7 linked regions of the Homo sapiens genome follow. Changing the gene in region 6 together with the main gene of any one other region gives a genetic interaction. Each region holds a gene or a part of one and is shown on either strand. Other genes may lie near its edges.

The links.
Region 1: changes in LEO1 (region 6) and CMAS together harm fitness more than expected from each alone (negative genetic interaction), as found in Homo sapiens cells (one large-scale study listed by BioGRID).
Region 2: changes in LEO1 (region 6) and NFYC together harm fitness more than expected from each alone (negative genetic interaction), as found in Homo sapiens cells (one large-scale study listed by BioGRID).
Region 3: changes in LEO1 (region 6) and RRM1 together harm fitness more than expected from each alone (negative genetic interaction), as found in Homo sapiens cells (one large-scale study listed by BioGRID).
Region 4: changes in LEO1 (region 6) and SDHC together harm fitness more than expected from each alone (negative genetic interaction), as found in Homo sapiens cells (one large-scale study listed by BioGRID).
Region 5: changes in LEO1 (region 6) and PNN together harm fitness more than expected from each alone (negative genetic interaction), as found in Homo sapiens cells (one large-scale study listed by BioGRID).
Region 7: changes in LEO1 (region 6) and PGD together harm fitness more than expected from each alone (negative genetic interaction), as found in Homo sapiens cells (one large-scale study listed by BioGRID).

The regions. Positions count from the first base shown.
Region 1 is NC_000012.12:22,056,218-22,059,717, reverse strand, and holds part of CMAS (N-acylneuraminate cytidylyltransferase), read right to left. Parts: intron 1,152-3,500; coding exon 1,018-1,151; intron 1-1,017. UniProt on the Homo sapiens protein: Catalyzes the activation of N-acetylneuraminic acid (NeuNAc) to cytidine 5'-monophosphate N-acetylneuraminic acid (CMP-NeuNAc), a substrate required for the addition of sialic acid.
Region 2 is NC_000001.11:40,743,704-40,747,203, reverse strand, and holds part of NFYC (nuclear transcription factor Y subunit gamma), read right to left. Parts: intron 1-3,500. UniProt on the Homo sapiens protein: Component of the sequence-specific heterotrimeric transcription factor (NF-Y) which specifically recognizes a 5'-CCAAT-3' box motif found in the promoters of its target genes.
Region 3 is NC_000011.10:4,125,799-4,129,298, forward strand, and holds part of RRM1 (ribonucleoside-diphosphate reductase large subunit), read left to right. Parts: intron 1-885; coding exon 886-1,035; intron 1,036-1,236; coding exon 1,237-1,458; intron 1,459-3,275; coding exon 3,276-3,352; intron 3,353-3,500. UniProt on the Homo sapiens protein: Provides the precursors necessary for DNA synthesis. Catalyzes the biosynthesis of deoxyribonucleotides from the corresponding ribonucleotides.
Region 4 is NC_000001.11:161,352,381-161,355,880, reverse strand, and holds part of SDHC (succinate dehydrogenase cytochrome b560 subunit, mitochondrial isoform 1 precursor), read right to left. Parts: intron 1-3,500. UniProt on the Homo sapiens protein: Membrane-anchoring subunit of succinate dehydrogenase (SDH) that is involved in complex II of the mitochondrial electron transport chain and is responsible for transferring electrons from succinate to ubiquinone (coenzyme Q).
Region 5 is NC_000014.9:39,178,254-39,180,986, forward strand, and holds part of PNN (pinin), read left to right. Parts: intron 1-837; coding exon 838-993; intron 994-1,070; coding exon 1,071-1,209; intron 1,210-2,249; coding exon 2,250-2,733. UniProt on the Homo sapiens protein: Transcriptional activator binding to the E-box 1 core sequence of the E-cadherin promoter gene; the core-binding sequence is 5'CAGGTG-3'. Capable of reversing CTBP1-mediated transcription repression.
Region 6 is NC_000015.10:51,958,279-51,961,778, forward strand, and holds part of LEO1 (RNA polymerase-associated protein LEO1), read right to left. Parts: intron 2,456-3,500; coding exon 2,361-2,455; intron 1,767-2,360; coding exon 1,621-1,766; intron 549-1,620; coding exon 464-548; intron 1-463. UniProt on the Homo sapiens protein: Component of the PAF1 complex (PAF1C) which has multiple functions during transcription by RNA polymerase II and is implicated in regulation of development and maintenance of embryonic stem cell pluripotency.
Region 7 is NC_000001.11:10,405,564-10,409,063, reverse strand, and holds part of PGD (6-phosphogluconate dehydrogenase, decarboxylating), read right to left. Parts: intron 994-3,500; coding exon 924-993; intron 1-923. UniProt on the Homo sapiens protein: Catalyzes the oxidative decarboxylation of 6-phosphogluconate to ribulose 5-phosphate and CO(2), with concomitant reduction of NADP to NADPH.

The sequences.
Region 1 (3,500 bases), on a different chromosome or scaffold from region 6:
CAATTTTTCTGAACACTTAAATTTAACTAAACAGCTAGTCTATAGTTTGCCTACACATTGACCAGAAGATTTGTAAAAATGTTTTTCTCTCTTTTGCTCAGAATAATAGTCCCATTAGAATTTTTATTACACAATGGAGAGGTTTCTCTCTCTCTCTTTAAAACCGCTATTTCTTGAGTAACATAAGAACCTGAATCCAAATCCTGACAGTACCATTTATTAGCTGTTTTTGCCTTGAGTCAATTACTTCATATTTCAGTGAGGCAGTTTTCCTCCTCTGTAAAACTGGGTAGAAATGTCCACTTCATTCATTCGCTATGCAGATTACATAAGATAACATATGCAAAGTGTTTCACCTACTCCGAAGTACACAGTAAATAATAAATAATAATGATAACTAAAATTAACAAGTTAAGAAATATATGATGCAACCATGTTGCAGGCTCTAAAATGAGAGAGACATTAAATCTGTTATTTGAAAATGAGAGTCAGGACAGATAAAATGATACATATTCAAGCTTACATAGTAAGAGGCAGTTGACTTAAAGTATAATAAAAAAAAAAAAAAATATATATATATATATATATAAAAAGATTCCGGGTTTCCTGACACCCAGGTTGTAACTCTTTTCACCTCTATGAAATTATTTGTCTTTTTAAAGCAATAGAAGTTATTCAACCCTACAGCCACAATATAACTATAACACAAACATGGATTACGTAGTTTTGAGTGGAATAATATGAGTACCAGGACATGTGTAGACACCCAGTACTTGATTCATTTTTTTATCGTTGTAGCAGAATTCCTTGCATATTTACTGAATGGATTCCAAAGATCACTTTGGGGTAAACCTGCAGGATAAATGCCTCAGATAGCAAATGTTGTTGGCTATTACCTTTCCTCTATAGGTTGATACTTTTCTTTATCATAAAGAAATTGTACCATACTTCTTCCCTAGAACTCAAAGTATGCCTACAAAAGCGCTTAAAAGGGTTATGCAAAATGAAGGTACAAACCTGCAAGTAACCCATCTCTATCAAATGTCTTTTAGCAAAATAAAATGAGCCATTTTCATATAATTCTCCATCCCAGTCTTGTCGACGAGGCCGTTTAGCTGGATTTAAATTCAGAGGTTCGGTCACTTCACGAACTAAAAGCAAAAAGTTAGAGTAAGTCCACGTTGCCCTGAATATAGAAAGTGTTAATTTAGTAACTAAAAAAGTTAATAAAAATGAACTCAGAATGCAGAGCATTTCTTTATCTAGATAAAGAACTTTTCTTTTTTTTTTTTTGAGACAGAGTCTCGCTCTGTCACCCAGGCTGGAGTGCAATGGTGCGATCTTGGCTCACTGCAACCTCCGCCTCCTGGGTTCAAGCGATTCTCCTGCCTCAGCCTCCCAAGTAGCTGGGACTACAGGCATGCACCACCACACCTGGCTAATTTTTGTATTTTTAGTGGAGATGGGGTTTCACCATGTTGTCCGGGCTGGTCTCGAACTCCTGACCTCGTGATCCGCCCACCTCGGCCTCCCAAAGTGCTGGAATTACAGGCATGAGGCACTGCACCCGGCCTGATAAAGAACTTTTTTTAGGCTGAATGTGGTGATTCACGCCTGTAATCCCAGCACTGTGGAGGCCAAGGCGGGCGGATCACTTGAGGTCAGGAGTTCGAGAGCAGCCCAGCCAACATAGTGAAACGCCATCTCCACTAAAAACACAAATTTAGCCGGGCATGGTGGTGGGTACCTGTAATCCCAGCTACTTGGGAGGCTGAGGCAGGAGAATCGCTTGAACCCGGGGGGGGGAGATTGCAGTGAGCCGAGATTGCGCCACTGTACTCCATCCAGCCTGGGCAACAGAGTGAGACTCTGTCTCAAAAAAAAAAAAAAGAACTTTTTTAAAGGAATAAAATCTGTAATAATTCTGATGATTTATCTTTGCTTTCCAATAGCTACTAGAAAACTAAAGTATTTTATAATGAAATGTGGAACAATTAAGGTATTCATACAAATATTATGCTTTGGGAGGACATCAAGACAACCTTAAAGTAGCTTTAAAAGAACTGAATTTGTCATAAAATACCTATATTAATATTTGGGCCCTTTAATCTAGTTCTCATTGTTTGCATATACAGAAATAAGTTTTATTTATCTAATGTGGTTGAGAACTTGTTTTTATACAATTATTGCTGAAAAGTAAAGATTTCTCCATTAAATTATTGAAGATTTTATATTGATGAAAATGTTTATGTAACATATTATACATTCTTACCATTAGTTAAAAATATACTAAACATAATAATAAATTATGTTTATGAGTATACCTGATAATAAAGGCTCAGTAATGTCAACATTAATGAATAGAACATAATGTAATCAATGAAGACTTTGGTACTGTCATGTAGAGATTCCTTTGCCTTTCCACTGAGTTTTCCTCAAATCTGTGTGTGTGTGTGTGTGTGTGTGTGTGTGTGTGTATGTGTGTGTGTGTAATAGCTGGTTACTCTCCAGAATCTTTCTTCACTTTTTGCTGCCATTTCTGTGTTTATACAGGCTTCTAGGAATAACCTCTACTTACTTGTTTAACGAAATCATCCCCTGTTCAATTCCACCCCAGTGTTTGAAATAACCCAGGAAAAAACCTTAGCAAATACAAATTAAATAGCTAGAGATAACATAGCTTTATGGGCACTGGCTACAGAGTAGTGACCAGAACTCTCTCTATTCTCAAAAAGTATACAATCTAGGGGTAGAGACAGGTAATAAACCAACTAGATAATTCAAGTGGTACTTTGAAGAAAAGAGAGGGACAAATCTTTCCTAGTATCGGTGGCTGCTTTCTCCCTGGTCATATCTGCTGAGTATGAGGAGAAGGTACAAGAAAGATCAAGCTTTGCATAATCAGAGGGACTCTGCTGAGGTAGGCAAAAACTAGAAGGGCTTTCAATGACCTTGTGGACTTGAGTTACAGATTGTCATCTGTAGGAACCACAAACATATAGCTCGTTTTTCCCCACCTAATGCTTCCCCCTTACAAGACTTTGGCTGAGTGTACTGGGTGGGAAGCTGGGAATGGGCTGGAAAGCAGGGAGACATCATAATAGTATTGTGGTCATCAGATCCCTTAGTCTTGTTAGCAAGAGTAGGGTATGGGTGTGAGTGTCAGTAACACATACAAGATGTATCTCCTAATAAGACACCTATACTAAGAGGTGAGATGAAATTAAAGTTTCAACCCAGCCCAACTCCTAATTGAATCAAAGTGATCAGCCCCTTATCCTATCTTCCTGATAGAAGAAAAGGTGTACCCTCTCTGGAGGAAAATATGTACTCAAGTGTCTATGCCAGATATACAATTAAACATGAGCCAAATGAAGAGGCAGAAATAGGTGACTCACAATCAAGAAAGAAGCAGATTACAGAACTGTAAGTGACTAGATGTTGAAATTTGCAATCAAGGACTTTCAAATAGCTATCAAAAATATGTTAAATTAGAGGAA
Region 2 (3,500 bases), on a different chromosome or scaffold from region 6:
TTTTTCCAAGTAAGTTTACCAGTCTGCAATATGCAGATTAAAATGAGATTTCTGTCTCAGGGGTATTCCTCTAAACTGCCAGTTCTTTCTTCCATTCAGTGACCAAACTAACAGCAACGCCGGGGCACTTGACCACAGTGATCCACAGTTCTTTACAACTGATAGTGGCCATTTCTGACATTTGCACTAACCTGACAACAGAAACTGGGGAGGAGAGCTCCTTTCTCATCACAGTAGCAATGGCCTTGTCTCCAAAATTTGTTTCAAGTGGGGGTAGAGGAGTATAGAAAAAGGATGAGGGTGAATTTGTCAGCTGCCTTTTAGGAACAGCTGTGTTATTTTTTCTTAACAAGCCTGGAGTGGGGGAGGACCATATAACTTCACTGTGGATATAGTTTAGGAAAGGGCTTTTTTGATCAGCACTACTCAATAATTTGAGACTTAAGCCCTTTTTTGTTTTATTTTGAAACTACTGGTATTTAAACACATGCCCAATGATGGATGCAATTCTAGGAAAAAAATCAATTTTGAGTTTCAGAGCTGCAATGAAGAGGAAGGTGCAAAGGCAGATATTAGCTAAAATCAGCAAAATCTCTACTGGGACTAGGTGTCAAATGATTGATTCTATAAGTGGTCTGAAATGTGACTCACTAAACCTAATATGCTCACCTGGGAATTTGCATCATCACATTATGGAAGGAGCATATATTATTTCAGATTTGATGTAATTAACAAGCATAAGTGAACTTTCTTTTGCAAGACCAACAGAAAATCTCAAATATATGTCAAAAAAAGGTATTTTGGAAAAACATCAACAGTCTTCCCAGAACCTATTTTATGATTATAGAAAGAAGAGAATCTATTAGGATAAAATGTACACCAAGACATCTAATTTTTCCATGCAAACCCAACAAGCTGCTTGGCTACCACTCTGCTCTACAAACTTCAAACACCAATTTTTCATCTTTTCCTTTTCCAAATTAGGTATCAACATTTTCCATGAACCCTCTACTAAAACTAACCCTGGAGTAACAGAGACTTAGAAGTTCAGTTTATTAAAATTTCAACAAAAGGAAACAGTAGCGCAGGTTCATTCTATTCTTGTTTTTCCCCTTGCTCTTTCATTTACTGATTCAAGCAACTCAACTAATAGTAAATGTATGATACCTACTACTATGCAAAAAATACACATGTAGGCCAGGCATGGTGGCTCATGCCTGTAATCCCAGCACTCTGGAAGGCTGAGATGGGAGAATCGCTTGAGGCCAGGAGTTTGAGACCAGTCTGGTCAACATAGTGAGACCCCATCACTATTTAAAAAAGAAAGAAAAAAAATACACATCTACTCCTACCTTTGAAGAGCTTGTGGTTTGTCAGAGATAGTCACATAAAAACATTATAATCCCCTACCCAATACTGGAGGGGAGGGATCCCCTGCGGGGACACAAAGAAGGACATATTGCTAGGGACAGCTAGCAATGTGGGGCTGGAGGGAGAGTGAGGGATTGGGAAATGTTCCACAAAGGGGATGACATCTGAATTGTGTCTAAGGGATGCTGGGAATTTGCCTGTTGAAAAAGTATGAGAATGTTATTCAGACAGAACAACAAAGACAGAGAGAGAGACAAAAAATCACAGCCTATTTAAGTTTTAGATCTACTACCTGAGTATAGAGGGGAAAAGCAGGAAAGAGGATACTGGGTTGGGGCCAGATCCTAAAGAGTTTTTTTAAAAGTTTAATCCCAGAAATCAACCACTGGTCTTCCTTCTTGTGTGGCATATCACAGAAGATGATGACACTACATAGAAATGCCAAAGAGAATGCTAGGGATGATCATTCCTTTGGAAAACCTCCCAGGCTAATACATACAGCACAAGATGATCATACATTTAGCTCTCTTGCAAGTGTGCTCTTGTTTGGCTTGGTTTTAAATATAATTTGTACAAGAACGTTCCATGATTACTTAACTAAAGCCCAAAGTTGATAAAAAAGACCTCTTTCCCCAAATTGAAAGAGTAAACTATTACTCCTTCAATTTCTCTTCTTTAATCAAAAGCAACAAAAGTCAAGGATCAAGAGATCATTCCCGCCTTGCAGAGATGTAAAATGAGGCAGAAATTTATAATAAGCTCTGCTTTAATCCCCTTCCCAAAGCTTTTCTTTGTGACAAACTATTTTTTCATGTTCCTGAAACCTTGAGATCTCAAGAAGCAGTGTGTAAAAGTGGATCTTGAGGGGTGTGTATGGTTCATCCCTGTTGACAATCACCCAGTTTTCTATAATCCTATCCTAGCCTTCTAGTTACATGTAAGGATTTACCATAAGCTTGTTGGAAAAGGGAGGCCCTCTACAATCAGTAGATTGAGGCCCACGAAACTTGGATTCATGCTCCCCACTTCACTAGCTACCATGTAACTGAAGTGAGTAACATTTAACTCCTTAACTCCTTCTCCTGATACTGATTCAACTGGAAGAACAGCTGACACACACTGCTCCCCCCTACTTTTGGGAGTTCTATCAGTAAGGCAGAAGAGCAGATTATCTCTCAGAACATTCTCATGCTCCTGACCACTACCAAAGAACTACGTTAAAAATGCTTCCATCTGAAACTGCTGCATTTCAAGACAAATTCAAATCTGAATTCACTCAATGAGAGTTTGGAGACAAAGAAAAGTCAACAGATCTTGGGCTGCACTGAAGAACATCCAGAGTTTCAAATAATAAAGAGAAACCTTTTCCAGGCCTACCCAGTCAGGCACTCTGGCAAGTCAAGATTCTCAACCCTTTGAAATCAATGATTCTCAATCTTGGGGCTGCAGGTTAGAATCACCTGAAAAGCTTTTGAAAAACAAGATGCCTGAGCTCTCTCCTGGAGACCAACTGAATCAGGAACTCTAGGACAGTGGTCCCCAACCTCAGGAACCAGTTTTGTGCAAGACAATTTTTCCAGAGATGGGCAGGGTGGGCATTAGATTCTCATAAGGAGTGTGCTACCTAGATCCCTCACATGCGCAGTTCATGATAGGGTTCACATTCCTTTGAGAATCTAATGCCACTGCTGATCTGACAGGAGGTGGAGCTCAGGCAGTAATGCTTGCTTACTGGCTGCTCACCTCCTGCTGTGCAGCCCAGTTCCTAGGTTCCTAACAGGCCATGGACCCATACCGGTCTGTGGCCCAGGGGTTGGGGACCCCTGCTCTAGTGGGTAGAGTACTGGCATCATGTTTTTTGAAAACTCCCCTTGTGACTATGATCCAAGTGAGAGTTAAGGACTACTGTTTTACGGCCCTGCTACTCAAAGTAAGGTCCTTGGACCAGCAATGGTATCACCTGGGAACTCAAAAGAAACACAGAATCCCAGGTTCCGTTCCTAACCTACTAAATCAGCATCAATATTTTAAGAAGATCCTCCCTCACGTGGTTCATACAGACAATAAAGTTTGAGAAGCACTGCTCTACAGAAAGGGCTCACACAGCACAGGACCTGTTTTGTAACAGT
Region 3 (3,500 bases), on a different chromosome or scaffold from region 6:
TTTCTTCCTGGCATTTATTAGACTTCTGTGATTCAAGCTATATTTAAAAAAATGGGTATTTGGCAACATGTGTAGAATGGAGTAGATGTGAAGGGCATCAAGAGTTCAACTGGGAAACTTTCAGTAGTCCATGTGAGAGAAGTTAAGACTTTGGCTTGGGATAGTCATAATCAAAATGGAAAAGAAAGTGTATTCATTCAACATTATCAAGACTTACTGTGTGCCAGATGTGTTGCTAGTGCTAAACATATAAATATAAATAAGATGATCCTTGTGTGAAGAAGCTCACTGCCTCGTGTAGTGGAGAAATCACTGGAAGAGCTTTTTCAGAAATCACAAATTGAGATCCATTGTTGCTAAGGGCTTGTCAGAATATCAGTGAAGGTGAGGTGGACGTGTGTGTTTTGAAGAACTCTGCAGTGATGGAAATGTTCTGTATCTGATGGCTATTGAGCACTTGAAATATGACTAGTGCAACTGAGAAACTCAAATTTTATTTCATTTTAAATAGATATATGTAGCCAGTGGCTACCATATTGCAGGGCACTCATCTACTGAATAATGAGATAGGTATATGTAAAAAGCTAATTATAACATAGTGTGATATATGTCTGGTAATAGAGCTGTGTACTGTGGAACATAGGGTTCTCTCTCTCTCTTACCTATTTTGCTGATGCATGTTATAACTAACACATATGACTAGGTATTGAAGAAATAGAATCAGTGGGATTTAGAAATGGACTGATGAATGATGAAGAGGGAGAAGTCAAATATAAAAATTTAAAATTTTAATGTCTGAGTATTAGAGGCTCACATGGTGGTGTAATTGACACAGGAAGTAGAAATAAAAATTGTGTGATTCTTGACCTGTTTTTTGCATTCCAGGTTGCTGTTTGTAATTTGGCTTCCCTGGCCCTGAATATGTATGTCACATCAGAACACACATACGACTTTAAGAAGTTGGCTGAAGTCACTAAAGTCGTTGTCCGAAACTTGAATAAAATTATTGATATAAACTACTATCCTGTACCAGAGGTATGAATAGATTTCTCTGCTTATTGGTAATTATTGAAATCCAAATTGAAAGGAATCAATCATGATCTTCAAGTCATCATTTAAATGGTTATCAATAAAATGGTTTGAGAAAAAGAGGTAGTCTGTCTCATTTGGTACAGAATGTTGCTTTTCCTGTTCAGTAATGTTTTCTCCTTTTCTTTAAAATCTGTTGACACAAAGGCATGCCTATCAAATAAACGCCATCGCCCCATTGGAATTGGGGTACAAGGTCTGGCAGATGCTTTTATCCTGATGAGATACCCTTTTGAGAGTGCAGAAGCCCAGTTACTGAATAAGCAGATCTTTGAAACTATTTATTATGGTGCTCTGGAAGCCAGCTGTGACCTTGCCAAGGAGCAGGGCCCATACGAAACCTATGAGGGCTCTCCAGTTAGCAAAGGAGTAAGTATATGGATGGAATTGTTTTTGCCTGTGAGTACCTGTAGTGGGCTGAATGGTGACCCCACAAAAGGATATGTCCACATCCTAATTCCTGGAACCTGTGAATTTAATTTCATTTGGTTCAAAAAAAGGTATTTTGCAGATGTAATTAAGAACCTTGAGATAAGGAGATTTACCTGGATTATCCAGGTGAGCCCTAAATCTAATGACAGTTGTCCTGCAAGAGGCACAGAAGGGGAAGCAACGTGACTATGGAGGCAGAAATTGGAGTGTTACAACCACAAGCCTTGGAATGCTGATAACCACTAGAAGTTATAAGAGGCAAGGAACAGAATCTCTTCTAGTGCCTCTGGAGGGAGTGTGGCCCTCCCAACATGTTGATTTTGGGCTTCTGGTCTTCAGAACTATGAGAGAATAAATTTTTGTTAAGTTACCAAGTTTTTAGTAATTTGTTGCACCAGCCATAGGAAACTTAAATACCTTTGTCCTCTGGAGTAAAAAGGATACTCTGTTTTAATCTCTTATTTAGAACTAGTCATTGCTAAAATAATGTAAGAGGGATGCTGCCAATGTTAGTTTTCTGTGGGTTAAAACATGGCATTCGTTATCTCACAGTTTCCACAGGTCAGGAGTCCAGACTTAGCTTAGCTGGGCCTTCTTTTCTGGGTCTGTGTTCAAGATGTTGGTAAGGGCTGTGATCTCGTCTGAGACACAGAGTTCTCTTCCAAGCTTACCTGGTTGTTGGCAGAATATATTTCAAGGACTCATGGCATCTTGCTTCTTTAAGGCCAGTGGGAGAGACCATCTCTCGTTTCAAAAGGGGCACAGTCTAGTCTCTTTTGAGGGTTTTCACCTGATAAGTTAGGTCCACATAGGATAATGTCCTCACCACCCCCCTGTCCCGCTTTTTTTTTTTTTTTTTTGAGACAGAGTCTCACTTTGTTACCCAGGCTGGAGTGTGTGGTGTGATCTTAGATCACTGCAACCTCTGCTTCTCAGGTTGAAGCAGTTCTGCTGCCTCAAGTCTCCCGAGTTAGTAGAGATGGGGTTTTGCCATGTTGGCCAGGCTGGTCTTGAACTTGTGACCTCAAGTGATCCGCCTGCCTTGGCCTCCCAAAGTGCTGGGATTACAGGCATGAATCACTGCACCTGGCGTAATCTTCCTTTTATTTAACTCAGAATCGGCTGATTTGCAACCTTAATTACATCTGCAGAAACCTTTCACCTTTGCCATAATCGCTGGAGTGACATGCATCCTATTCTCAAGTCATGTCCATACTCAAGTGGAGATTATAAATAGCCTGTGCACCAAGGTGTGGGAATCTGGGAAGCTGTCTTAGAATTCTGCCTTTCCCACTGCCTTTATTATCAGTACTATGATTCTTTACTATATAAAATGTTAATTTCATTTCTGACATTCCTGCTGATATTAGAAAATCTAATGTGTGGTTATTAGAAAATAGGTGTTTTTAGCTAAGTAAACAGATCAAGGGACAGATGAAGGCACTGAAGAAAGTAACATTTTTAGTGTTAAAAAAAGAGAATGTGTCAGCCACACCCTTTTATGAATGTTAGAGTTTTCTGGTTTGTAGATATGACATGGGATAATCAGTTTTCTTAGCCTGCTTCTGATCAATATGACTACATGGAATTTTGTCCAGGAAAATCTCTGGAGCTTGTATTCCTCATAGAGGTTGATTAGAAGACAGCATTTGTTGGGATGTGGGGACATGGCAGCTAGTCATTTGTGGGTTTTTTTTTTTTTTGGTCATAGTTTTAACTTGCTGTAGAATAAATTTGAGTTGTGTATTCCTTAGATTCTTCAGTATGATATGTGGAATGTTACTCCTACAGACCTATGGGACTGGAAGGTTCTCAAGGAGAAGATTGCAAAGTAAGTGAAAAGATGTAAAGTAGCTTTGAAGGCAGAAGGGTTTAGGTTCACCTTCTGGATCTTCAGAAGTTAGATATGTCATTTTAACTTCTTAAACTCATTTATTACAAATGGGGCTAAAATGGCCTATCTCACAAAACTATTTTGG
Region 4 (3,500 bases), on a different chromosome or scaffold from region 6:
TCCCAGGTAGCTGGCCTTATAGATGCATGCCACCATGCCTCGCTAATTTTTGCATTTTTAGTAGAGACAGGGTTTTGCCATGTTGGCCAGGCTGGTCTCAAACTCCTGGCCTCAAGTGATTCGCCCACCTCAGCCTCCCAAAGCGCTGGGATTACCAGCATGAGCCACTGCGCCTGGCCCTTTTTTTATCTTTATCTTCTAGTGTTGCTACCTCTGAAGAGAGGAAAAATTTTAAATCATTCAAATCTCTATTACACAAAAATTTAAATTAAAATGAATTAGAGACCTAAATGCTAGAACTAAAACTATAAAACTCTTAGTAGAAAGCATAGAAATAAATCTTCATGATCTTGGATTAGGCAGTGGTTTCACAGATGACACCAAAATCATAAATGACAAAAGAAAAAACAGATGAATTGGATTTCATCAAAATTACTAACTTTTGTGCTGCAAATAATACCATCAAGAAAGTGAAAAGACAACTCAAAGGAATGGGAGAAAATATTTGCAAATCATGGAGGACTTTTATCCAGAATACATAAAAAACTCTTACAACTCAATCAATAAAATGACAAATGGATCTGAATAGACATCTTTCCAAGGACGATAAATAAATGGCCAATCAGTGCATGAACAGGTGCTTAACATCATTAGCCATTAGACAAATGCAAATCAAAACCATAATGATATAATGTAACTGCTATGTGTATATACTTGGAAGATTATTTCCCTATGTGAAAGAAAAAGTATGAATATTTTAATGTCTGACAGGGCTGCATTATCTGTTGGAGCTCAGTGGCTATCGACCACCAATGACTGAGAAATCAAGTATAACAAATATGAAACTCAAATTAGAAATAAGATGTTATCTTGGCTGGCACGGTGGCTCATGCCTGTAATCCCAACACTTTGGGAGGCCAAGGTGGGCAGATTATTTGTGGTGAGGAGTTCAAGACCAGCCTGGGCAACATGGTGAAACCCCATCTCTACTAAAAATACAAAAATGAGCCAGTTGTGGTGGCGCACACCTGTAGTCCCAGCTACTCAGGAGGCTGAGGCAGGAGAAACTCTTGAACCTGGGAGGTGGAGGTTGCAGGAAGCTGAGATCGCACCACTGCACTCCAGCCTGGGCAACAGAGTGAGGCGTGAGGCTCCATCTCAAATGACAAAACACACACACACACACACACACACACACACACACACACACACACACAAAGAAATAAGACATCATCTGTAAAATGGGAATTAAAAAAAAAAAAAGAAAAAAAGAAGAGGCCAGTTGTTTCCCATAATCACCAAAAAATATTTTGGGGAAGCAAAAAAGAGTACCCACATCACAACTCCCAGAGACCCTGATTTGATAGTTTGGGATCATTGCTAGAACTGTGGTTTCCAAACTACACCAAGCTGCCCTGGGGTACCAAAGCAAACTCACAGGTCCTACAGGATATTTTACATATTCAAATGAAACACAGTGATACTTAACATCTGTTGGTCATCATGTGAACCACTACTAGCTCAAGGTAGTTCAGTTTCAACATTAGATGTTAGATTTCTTTCAATGATCACATCTTTGCAAAGCTGGGTTTTCAGCAAAAATGAAGTACTGTGTGAAAATCACTGTGGAACAAGAAATGAGGGTGGCAGTATCCAATCTGATTTCTAAGGTTGGAGGAGTTGTATAATATCCAACAGCATATACATCCTATTAGTAAGTAATTATGATTGGCTGGGTATGGTGGCTCATGCCTGTAATCCTAGCAATTTAGGAGGCTGAGGTGGGAGGATTACTCGGGCCCAGGAATTCAAGACCAGCCTGGGCAACATAATGAGACCCTGTCTCTACTAAAAATAAGACAAAAAATAAAAACAAAAATAAAAAATATTAGCCAGGCACAAAGTGAGCTGTGATTGTGCTACTGCACTCCAGCCCAGGTAACAGAGTGAGATCTTGTTTCAAAAACAAACAAACAAAAAAGTATGATTATTTAAGAATGAAATAAAAATATTTTTTTCTTTCCATTTATGTGGATGATTTTGTTTTTGCTTTTGTTTTTCATAGAGACGGGGTCTTGCTATGTTGCTCAGGCTGGTCTCTAACTCCTGGGCTCAAGCGATCCTTCTGCCTTGGCCTCCCAAAGCACTGGGATTATAGTTGTCAGCCACTGTGCCCAGCCTATGTGGATGATTTTTTTTAAAAAATGTCTACTCAATGGCTAAGAAATAAATAAGCTGTTTGGATCTAACAAACTAATAAAACAAAAGTGTTAGGTATTTACCTTGACTTAGGAGCACCATGAAAATAATTACTGAAGACACTGAGGTAAACCTGAACTCAAACAGTTTGATGAACATTTGGGAGGAAGATATGACTCAAGAGGGTTCAGAGTCTTTGACACTCTGGATAGATGATAAGCTATTATAGAAGACTGCAGGAACCCCTCTTTTGGTAGTTTTGATAGGAAATTCAAAACTATCTTTTGAATTTCAGTGCCAGCACAAAGCTCTGAAACTTCAATAGCCAAATATATGCCTTAGATATCTGGGCAAACTCATCCCTGATCTATGCATCAAATAGGACAACAGGCTCACAGCTGAGTCCCAGGGATGGCCACCCACACCAATATTAACCAACAGAAAACCAGACCCTGATATGGTGTTATCCTAGGATAACACCACCTACTCTCAAATGACCTACGAGAGTCAAAACTCTTGGAAATACTAGGATGTGAATAACAGTGTCTTCAGCTTTTGTTTTCCTATGAATAATACAGAATTATGTCAATTAGTTTAATCAATTCAAAAAGAGAAGACTGCCTCTAAATAAGTCAAATGTTCTCAAAATCATTCTACTACTACATACCCCCACACCAATTTTTTCTTTTTTCTTTTTTTTTCTTTGAGACGGAGTCTCGCTCTGTCGCCCAGACTGGAGTGCGGTGGCACGATCTCAGCTGACTGCAACCTCCGCCTCCCAGGTTCAAGCAATTCTCCTGCCTCAGCCTCCCGAGTAGCTGGGACTACGGGTGTGTGCCACCACGCCCGGCTAATTTTTTTGTATTTTTAGTAGAGACGAGGTTTCACTACATTAGCCAGGCTGGTCTCAAACTCCTGACCTCAGGTGATCCACTCGCCTTGGCCTCCCACCCACCTCGGCCACTTCAGTTTCTTAAGCTCTTAAATGAAGATACTCCTGTTTCTCAGATTATTATGAGGGTTAAATAATTATGTAAATGTTTAGTAAATAATGGCTATAGCAATAGTTGTATTTGAATTAGGTATTTTTCTGATGGGTTGAGTCCTTAAACAAAAAACATAAAATGATACAGTCTCTGGATATACATAGAATACTGGTTATTTCTGACTGGCGGGATTATGGGCAACTTTTCTAAGTATACATTTGTATAATATTTTCATTCTTGGTAATATGTTCTTGTAATCAGGAAAAATTTTTTTTTATACAAATCTCTGGGAGGTCAAGGAGATCTGGGATCATT
Region 5 (2,733 bases), on a different chromosome or scaffold from region 6:
TGCAGTGGCTCATGCCTGTAATCCCAGCACTTTGGGAGGCTGAGGCAGGTGGATCACCTGAGGTCAGAAGTTTTTCGAGACCAGCCTGGCCAACATGGTGAAACCCTGTCTTTACTAAAAATACAAAATTAGCCGCCTGTGGTGGCATGCGCCTGTAATCCCCAGCTATTTGGGAGGCGGAGGCAAGAGAATCACTTGAACCCTGGAGGTGAGGTTGCAATGAGCCAAGATCACACTATTGTACCCCAGCCTGGGCAACAGGCGCAAAACTCCATCTCAAAAAAAGAAAAAATGTGAAGCATATGCAGATACCTTTTTTTTTTCTTTTTCTTTTTTTTTGTAGAGATGGGGTTTTATCATGTTGCCCAGGCTGGTCTGAGCTCAAAGCAATCCACCCACCTCAGCCTCCCAGAGTGCTGGGATGACAGGTGTGAGCCACTGTGCCCGGCCTGCAGATACCTTTACATAGTGAAAAAAAAAAAAAAAAAAAAAATTTTTTTTGAGATGGAGTTTGGCTCTTCTTGCTCAGGCTGGAGTGTAGTGGCGTGATCTCAGCTCACTGCAACCTCCGCCTCTGGGGTTCAAGTGATTTCTCCTGCTTCGGCCTCCCAAGTAGCTGGGATTATAGGTGCGTGCAACCACGCCCTGTTAATTTTTTTGTGTTTTTAGTAGAGATGGTGGTGTTGGCTTCTGACTTCAGATGATCTACCTGCCTCTAATGTTTCACGTAATTAGTATGTGTAATAACTTTTTATCATAATTGAACTGAAATCATATATACCTTTTGTTGTAACTATTTCAACACGTAAGTATTAAAGCAGGCTACTTAACTTTTAGCAAAAGCGGCGCCAGGAAATTGAACAAAAACTTGAAGTTCAGGCAGAAGAAGAGAGAAAGCAGGTTGAAAATGAAAGGAGAGAACTGTTTGAAGAGAGGCGTGCTAAACAGACAGAACTGCGGCTTTTGGAACAGAAAGTTGAGCTTGCGCAGCTGGTGAGTGGTAATTTGGAATTCTAAGATTGGTAATCCTTTGTGTTTACAAAAGCACTGACCCTTTACCTTTTCTTTAGCAAGAAGAATGGAATGAACATAATGCCAAAATAATTAAATATATAAGAACTAAGACAAAGCCCCATTTGTTTTATATTCCTGGAAGAATGTGTCCAGCTACCCAAAAACTAATAGAAGAGTCACAGAGAAAAATGAACGGTAAGTATGCGAAGAGGTCCATTGAATTGTTCATAGTGGGTAAGGTAATATGTTCATATGCACACGTTTGTTTTCTAAAATAATTATGATTCAGTGATTGGTTTGCTGTGTTTGCTTTTTTTTTTTAAATAAGATAATAAGATATTCTAGGCCGGGCGTGGTGGCTCACGCCTGTAATCCCAGCACTTTGGGAGGCTGAGGCAGGCAGATCATGAGGTCAGGAGATCGAGACCATCCCGGCTAACATGGTGAAACCCCGTCTCTAGTCTCTACTAAAAATACAAAAAAAATTAGCTGGGCATGGTGGTGGGCACCTGTAATTCCAGCTACTTGGCAGGCTGAGGCAGGAGAATCACTTGAACCTGGGAGGCAGAAGTTGCAGTGAGCCGAGATTACGCCACTGAACTCCAGCCTGGGCAACAGAGCTAGACTCCATCTCAAAAAAAAAAAAAAAGATACATTCTGAGATGCTGGTGAGTTTGTAGTATAGGAATATTTGTATCATGATGGAGTTTAATGTGAAAGTTATAGACAGTGCTTATGCATCTGTATTCCTTAAGCATTTGTGTAAAATTACTTTTTTTTGCATGCTATTATTGTTCTGATAAAATGCTAATAAGACAAATGTGAAAACCAACTCAGTTTCTAGATGGAAAACACATGGAAGGATAGACACTGCTAAGATGATGATTTATCTCTTTGGGATCAGAAAAATTAATATATATGATTTTATGCCAAAACTGGTTCTGTTTTACAGAAGTTTTATTTTTCATCAGACATAAAGATTGATCTGTTTTCTTCATCAGTTAGAAAATGTGTAGTTCTGTCTGCCACAATTTCTAGTATGTAGATTTCCCATGGATCTTTGCTTTTATAATTTTATGTCAGTTTGTGGTTACTTAATTGCCATAATCTTTTGTCATAACTTTACAAAAACAAATTCAGATGAAGCTTAATGACAATTTGTGACCAGTTATAAAATTATGGCTTTGAATTTTCTTAATCGGTAAATTTTACACATGTAAATTTTTATTCTTTAGCTTTATTTGAAGGTAGACGCATCGAATTTGCAGAACAAATAAATAAAATGGAGGCTAGGCCTAGAAGACAATCAATGAAGGAAAAAGAGCATCAGGTGGTGCGTAATGAAGAACAGAAGGCGGAACAAGAAGAGGGTAAGGTGGCTCAGCGAGAGGAAGAGTTGGAGGAGACAGGTAATCAGCACAATGATGTAGAAATAGAGGAAGCAGGAGAGGAAGAGGAAAAGGAAATAGCGATTGTTCATAGTGATGCAGAGAAAGAACAGGAGGAGGAAGAACAAAAACAGGAAATGGAGGTTAAGATGGAGGAGGAAACTGAGGTAAGGGAAAGTGAGAAGCAGCAGGATAGTCAGCCTGAAGAAGTTATGGATGTGCTAGAGATGGTTGAGAATGTCAAACATGTAATTGCTGACCAGGAGGTAATGGAAACTAATCGAGTTGAAAGTGTAGAACCTTCAGAAAATGAAGCTAGCAAAGAATTGGA
Region 6 (3,500 bases):
GACCTCATATCTACAGAAAAAAAAAAAAGGCTGGGCATGGTGGCATGTTTTCTGTAGTCCCAGCTACTCAGGAGGCTGAGATGGGAAGATCACTTGAACCCAGGAAATTGAGGCTGCCAAGAGCTGGGTTTGTGCCGCTGTACTCCATCCTGAACAACAGAGCAAGACCGTGTCTCAAAATAAAAAGATGAAACTTCTGCTGAACCTACATCCTCCTTACTTAAAAGATTAGAGGCCCTCCTTTGATAGCGTGACCAGATGGTATAAGGTATCAAAGAGAAGCATTAATGGGAATTTAGTACAATAAAATTCTTTCCTAATAGTCAACAAAAGCAATCAAAAGAACACAGCCATATAGTGAAGTGTTAGGTAAAAAAATCACTTTCAAAAGCTCAAGTTTCAAGTTAGTATCTCCAGGTTTTACTTTATAAAAGAAAAAAAAGGAAAAAGCATGAAATGGTACCTTTAATTTTAACCTGGTTCTACCTTCTTCATCCAGCATTTCTTCATCTTCAAATTCATCTTCATAATACTGAGGATCAAAAGGTCTACAAATTGTTTTCCAAATAAACTATTAATCATATTTTATAAAGAATATTACTGCTATGTAATAACATCTCTATTAATAAACACCATTATATCAAAAAATCATAATATAATTTTAAAAATCATAATGATCAATATCTTCATGCTTAACTTCAAGGAAGTAGTAATTGTACTTTTTTCTTTTTTTTTTTTTTTGAGACCGAGCTTTGCTCTTGTTGCCCAGGCTGGAGTGCAATGGCACGATCTCGGCTCACCACAACCTCCGCCTCCCAGGTTCAAGCGATTCTCCTGCCTCAGCCTCCCGAGTAGCTGGGATTACAGGAATGCGCCACCATGCCTGGCTAATTTTGTATTTTTAGTAGAGACAGGGTGTTTCTCCATGTTGGTCAGGCTGGTCTCAGACTCCTGACCTCAGGTGATCCGCCCTCCTCGGCCTCCCAAAGTGCTGGGATTATAGGTGTGAACCACCACACCCGGCCAGTAATTTTACTTCTTAAAATTTGTTGTTAATACATATTGCTTGAAATAAAGTACAAGCAAGGGTAAATATTCAAAATATCCTTTCTTCTTCTTATGTAACTCTGCCAAAGAATAGGCAACATATGCTCTAGCTTTCCACATCATTGTGCCTGTGGAAAAAAAATTTTAAAAGCACAAGAGCTCGAGTAAACTTAGTAAATAATACCCATCAAACACTGTCTAATTGTCCAAAACCATTACCTTTTCTAGACCAACAATAGCTGCTACAGTGGACACTGGCATTTCTCTAGCAAATTTCATCGCTTTCAATTTCAGCCTTTTCAGGGTTGTACTAATTAAAAAAATACCTTGAACACTTGTGGTGTCTGTTAATTCATAAGAAAGTATCAAACTGCTAAAAACAATCATAGCATTAAAAGCCTCCCTTACTAATACATATTTTTTCTATCTCAGGATGTGCTTGACTAATTTTTTCAGAGATACACGATCAATTTTCCGTTTTTGTGATTTGTCAACTCAATGCGAAATAAGAAAAATAAACATTCTATGTATTTCTACTCAACATCCTGAAAAAATTTTAATTGATTTCCTTACCTGGGCTCTACACTGAGAAAGTTGGGCAGTTTAACAAAATATAAGTCGTTTCCTAAATCAGTGTTTACTTTGGGTATTTCTACTTCTATTCTGGTCTCAGGAATTGGCTCCTCTTCCTGTTGATCCTGAGGCAATCCATTTTCATCCTAGTGAAAGAATCGGAAGTTTGGAGCTTGACAGGACCTTAGAAATGGCTTCCTTCAACCTCCACACTTTAATTACTCTGGGGTGCAAGAAACATAATTAGATATCACTTTAGGACTAAAGAAGTCCCCAGTCCCCATCCCAACCCACCTACACACAAAATGGGAAACGATCAATTTGGATACCTCAGTACAAAAAACTATCTCCTTTATGATAAATCTGTCTTCCAAATACTCAACAAAAGTGTGAAATTAACACTTCAATAGGAAGTCACTCTATCAATTAAAACCAGAGAAGATTATCAACATAGCAGACACTTCTTGGCATGAGCAAGAAAAACATTCAAGTCAATGGTTCTCAAATCACAAGTCCTCACAGTTCAGTCCCCTAAGGCATGACACCAACCTCATGTTTGGCAGTTATTTCCACTCCCCCTTATAACCAAGAGTTCCCTACATAATGAAGAAAGTCATCTGTTCATGGTATTTTCATACTAGAATTCAGTTATCAACTTCCTTTCCTGGAATAAGGGAGACTCTTCACCTTTGAAACTTTATGCCTGGCCTTGAATAAGTTCATGTTACTAACTGACTTACAACAGGCTGTCCTGGAGTAGGTGGTTTGTCTTCTCCATCACTCCCTGAAGAGATATCATCTGCACCTCCAAATAAATCCATGGTTCCACTATTATCTTCAATGCAGAAGGAAAAAGGCATTAGTGTTACTATCTGTAACTAAGGTTCTTCACAGCTGATCACTTCAACACATTCCCAAGGTTTCTGGACCAGCATCAGAAAACCACCAAAAACATAATGCTGAGCCTGGCTCTCAAAGACCCAACCAGAGAGTGTGGGGAGAGGGAAGGGGGCAAATCTAGTGAAAGGCAAGCTGCACAGGAGGCACTTATTTCTCCTTTCATTTTCACCATCCTTGTTCTCCCACTTTCCTTTATTCCCCAGGAGCCCAAATGTTTCCTACAGTCTAGATGCTCAAAGTTGGGGCTGAAGCACTCCACAGACACCCATTTTCCATAAGTCTATCCCAGATTCAAAATTACAGTCCAGGCATAGTGGTTCATGCCTGTAATCCCAGCACTTTGGGAGGCCAAGGCAGGTGGATCACTTAAGGTCAGGAGTTTGACACCAGCCTGACCAACATGGTGAAACCCCGTCTCTACTAAAAATACAAAAACTAGCTGGGCTTGGTGACAGGTGCCTGTAATCCCAGCTACTTGGGAGGCTGAGGCAGGAGAAAGGAAGCTGCCACACCTGGCGGTAGAACTCCTTTCATCCTTCCAACTTATAATACCAGGTGGTGGTGGTGGTGGTGGTGGTGGTGGTGGTGGTTGCGGTTGTTGTTGTTGTTTTGAGACAGAGTCTCACTGTTGTTGCTCAGGCTGGACTGCAGTGGTGCGACCTTGGCTTACTGCAACCTCTGCCTCCCGAGCACAAGCGATTCTCGTGCCTCAGCCTCCCAAGTAGCTGGGACTACAGATGCACACCACCTCGCCCCGCTAATGTTTTGTATTTTTAGTACAGACAGGGCTTCACCATGTTGGCCAAGCTGGTCTTGAACTCCTGGCCTCAAGTGATCCACCCACCTTGGCCTCCCAAAGTGCTGGGATTACAGGCGTGAGCCACTGCACCCAGCCAACACTGGGTTTTTATGAGCTCTTCATCTAACTCACAGCTCAAAGAATCAGTTTCTTCATCTAAGTCAAGAACTTAGGAACAAAA
Region 7 (3,500 bases), on a different chromosome or scaffold from region 6:
AAGTCCATGAAGGGACGTGGCTTGCCTGATGTCACAGTTAAGTTTATGGAAAGCCAGAACTGCCACTCAGGTCTCCTGAGCCTAATGCTTTTTTCCATCCACAGCATGGCTGAACTACAATATGAGATAAAGTTTACTTTAACAGCAACACGAGGCCGGGCATGGTGGCGCATGCCTGTAACCTCAGCACTTTGTGAGGCCAAGGCAGGCAGATGACTTGAGAGTCCAGGAGTTTGAGACCAGCCTGGGTGACATGGTGAAACCCCGTCTCTACAAAAAATACAAATATTAGCTAGGCGTGGTGGCATGCACCTGCAGTCCCAGCTACTCAGGAGGCTGAGGCAGGAGGATTGCTTGAGCCTGGGAGGTGGAGGTTGCGGTGAGCCAAGATCGCACCACTGTACTATGAACTAGGTTAGGCCTCCTTCATATTCAGTGAGGGTGCAAGTCCACAGGTTACTTTGTTCAAGCACAGAATGCCTGAATCCCACACTACAGGATGGGGAATTTTCCACGTTCATGGAATGTTGACACAGCAACAGTACCTTCAATCTTCCACCTTTCACCCATGCAAGCAAACGCCACTTTTGATTCTGACATTCTTTCCTTTGGCCATGAAATAATATGGCTCGAAAAAATCTTATTTCACTTCATCCTATTCCTTTTTAAAGAATTCATCTTTTAGATGAATTATAGAAGGCTGCTTTTAATATCAACCTCAAGGCTATGAACAGTCAGCTAAGATACAAAGATGTGAACAGCAGGCATGCATTCTAGGCGTTGGCTATTCTAGCAATCAAAGATCGAGACGTTTATGTCACCAAGCTAACCCCTGGGAGACCACGGTGGCCTTTCTCCACGCACTTCATCACTTAGACACGCCCATGTTGCCAATTGGCTTTAAAGAGTAGCCCAGAACTTGCCCAGTCACAGCAGGGTTCTCCAGTTCCCACTTTTGCAGCAATGCCTTGGAAGATGGTCTTGATGTGGGGCCTGTGTAAAGAAACAGTGTGGTTCAGTTAATGAGAAGAGACGGGCTGAGAGCCCATACCCATAGACACCAACATACCCATAGACACCAACCCCTATCTTTTCCTTTCTTTTTTTTTTTTTTTGAGACAGGGTCTCACGTTGTCACCCAGGCTGGAATGCAGTGGTGTGATCTCAGCTCACTGCAGCCTCCTCAACCTCCCAGGTTCAAGTAATCTTCCTGCCTCGGCCCCCTAAGTGGCTAAGACTACAGGTATGTGACACCACACCCAGCTCATTTTTTTGGATTTTGTAGAGATGGGGTTTTGCCATGTTGCCCAGATTGGTCTCGAACTCCTGAGCTCAAGTGATCCACCCACCGTGGATACCCAATGTGCTGGGATTACAGGCATAAGCCACCACCGCACTGGGCCCATCTTTTTCTTTCTAATGGGAGGTGGAAGTGCCCACAAAAAGATAATGAATGTGCTAAGTTCTCAAGGTCAACTGCAGACCCTTGACTGAAACTGGCCCCTCCTCCAGGTCCTGGTGGGCCCTCAAAGCAGACTGGACTATCGGACTGAGACTACAGACAGAAAGGCTGAGCAGAAGCATCACCAAAGCACCAGAAGAAATGTCTTCTTAGAGACAGGGTCTCACTCTGTTGCCCAGGCTGGAGTGCAGTGGCACAATCACGGCTCCCTGCAGCCTCAAACTCCTGGACTTAGGTGATCCTCCTGCCTCAGCCTCCCAAGTAGGTGGGGCTACAGGTGTGTGCCATCACACCCAGCTAATTAAAAACTTTTTTTTGTAGGGACAGGATCTTGCTATGTTGCCCAGGCTGGTGTTGAGCTCCTGGCCTCAAGCAATCCTCACACCTCAGCTTCCCAAAGTGCTGGGACCATAGGCGTGAGCCACCATGCCTGGCTAATTTTTTGTTGGTGGTGCAGAGATGGGGTCTCCCTATGTTGATGTGGCTGGTCTTGAACTCCTCGGATCAAGCACTCCTCCCACCTCAGCCTCTTGAGTCACTGAAATTACAGGCATAAGCCATCGCACCCGGCTCAGAAATTTCTACTGCAGCAGCAGCAGACAGTATGATTGCAAACAGCAGGCAATACGAAAGTTCCTTTAGAGATCCTCTTTTAATTTTTTCCCTTTTCTTTATTTCTCCTTATAATGGCTTTTAGCAAGTGAAGAGACCCTCTTTCATTTGTCTGGATGTGTGCTGCCAGGCACAGAATGGTTCTGGACATTTGGATTAAGAACCAGGCAGCGTTTTTGAGAGCTACATTACCATTCAGAGAAAGGCCGCTGTTCATTCCTTCCACAGCTCAGCACGCGGATATATTACTCTTGAGACTTTCCCTCACTGTTCTGCTCCCTAATGGCCAGTCAAGGCTTCCTCACAAAAAGTTTCTGGTACAGACATGAAATCTTACAGGGTTGCAAAGTTAACATTTAGGATTAGGGATGAAGACAGCCACACCGGAAACCGCAGAGCTTCACTGAACTTTTACAGTGTCCTTCTGGTAAAGGTGCCATTTGTACTTCTGCCACCACAGTATGAGGAAAGAGAACTGATGGAAACAACTGGAGCACTCCATATGTCAAATACTTTTACGTGCATTGTCTGCTGGTTGCCTTTCTAACTGCTCACTGTGCAGGTGCTTCGAGATAAGTATTTTCAAACCTTTTTTTTTTTTCTTAAGAAACAGGGTCTTGCTATGTTGTCCAGGCTGGCCTTGAACACCTGGGCTCAAGCAGTTCTCTCACCTCAGTCTCCTGAATAGCTGGCACTACAGGTGCAAGCCACTGCACACACAGCTGTTTAAACTTCTGAGAAGCAGAAAGGCCTCTCTACTTCTGTGTTTTATTAATAACACACTGAAGAGAATCCCCAGACTCATTCACCAGAAAGGTAATTAAAAAAATTATTTTTGGCTGGGCGCAGTGGCTCACACCTGTAATCCCAGCACTTTGGGAGGCTGAGGCAGGCAGATCACGAGATCAGGGGATCAAGACCATCCTGGCTAACACGGTGAAACCCCGTCTCTACTAAAAATACAAAAAATTAGCTGGGCGTGGTCGTGGGTGCCTGTAGTTCCAGCCACTTGGGAGGCTGAGGCGAGAGAATGGCGTGAACCTGGCAGGTGGGGCTTGCAGTGAGCAGAGATCGCGCCACTGCACTCTGCACTCCAACCTGGGCAACAGAGCAAGACTCCGTCTCAAAAAAAGAATCATTTTTTCTTTTTTACTGAGACCGAGTCTCGCTCTGTCACCCATGATGGAGTGCAGTGGTGAGATCTCGGCTCATTGCAACCTCTGCCTCCCAGGTTCAAGTGATTCTTGTGCCTCAGCCTCCCATGTAGCTGGGATTAGAGGTGCCCTCCACCATGCCCGGCTAATTTTTGTATTATTAGTAGAGAGTTTCACCATGTTGGCCAGGCTGGTCTTGAACTCCTGACCTCAAGTGATCCTCCCATCTCAGTCTCCCAAAGTGCTGGGATTACAGGCGTGAGCCACCATGC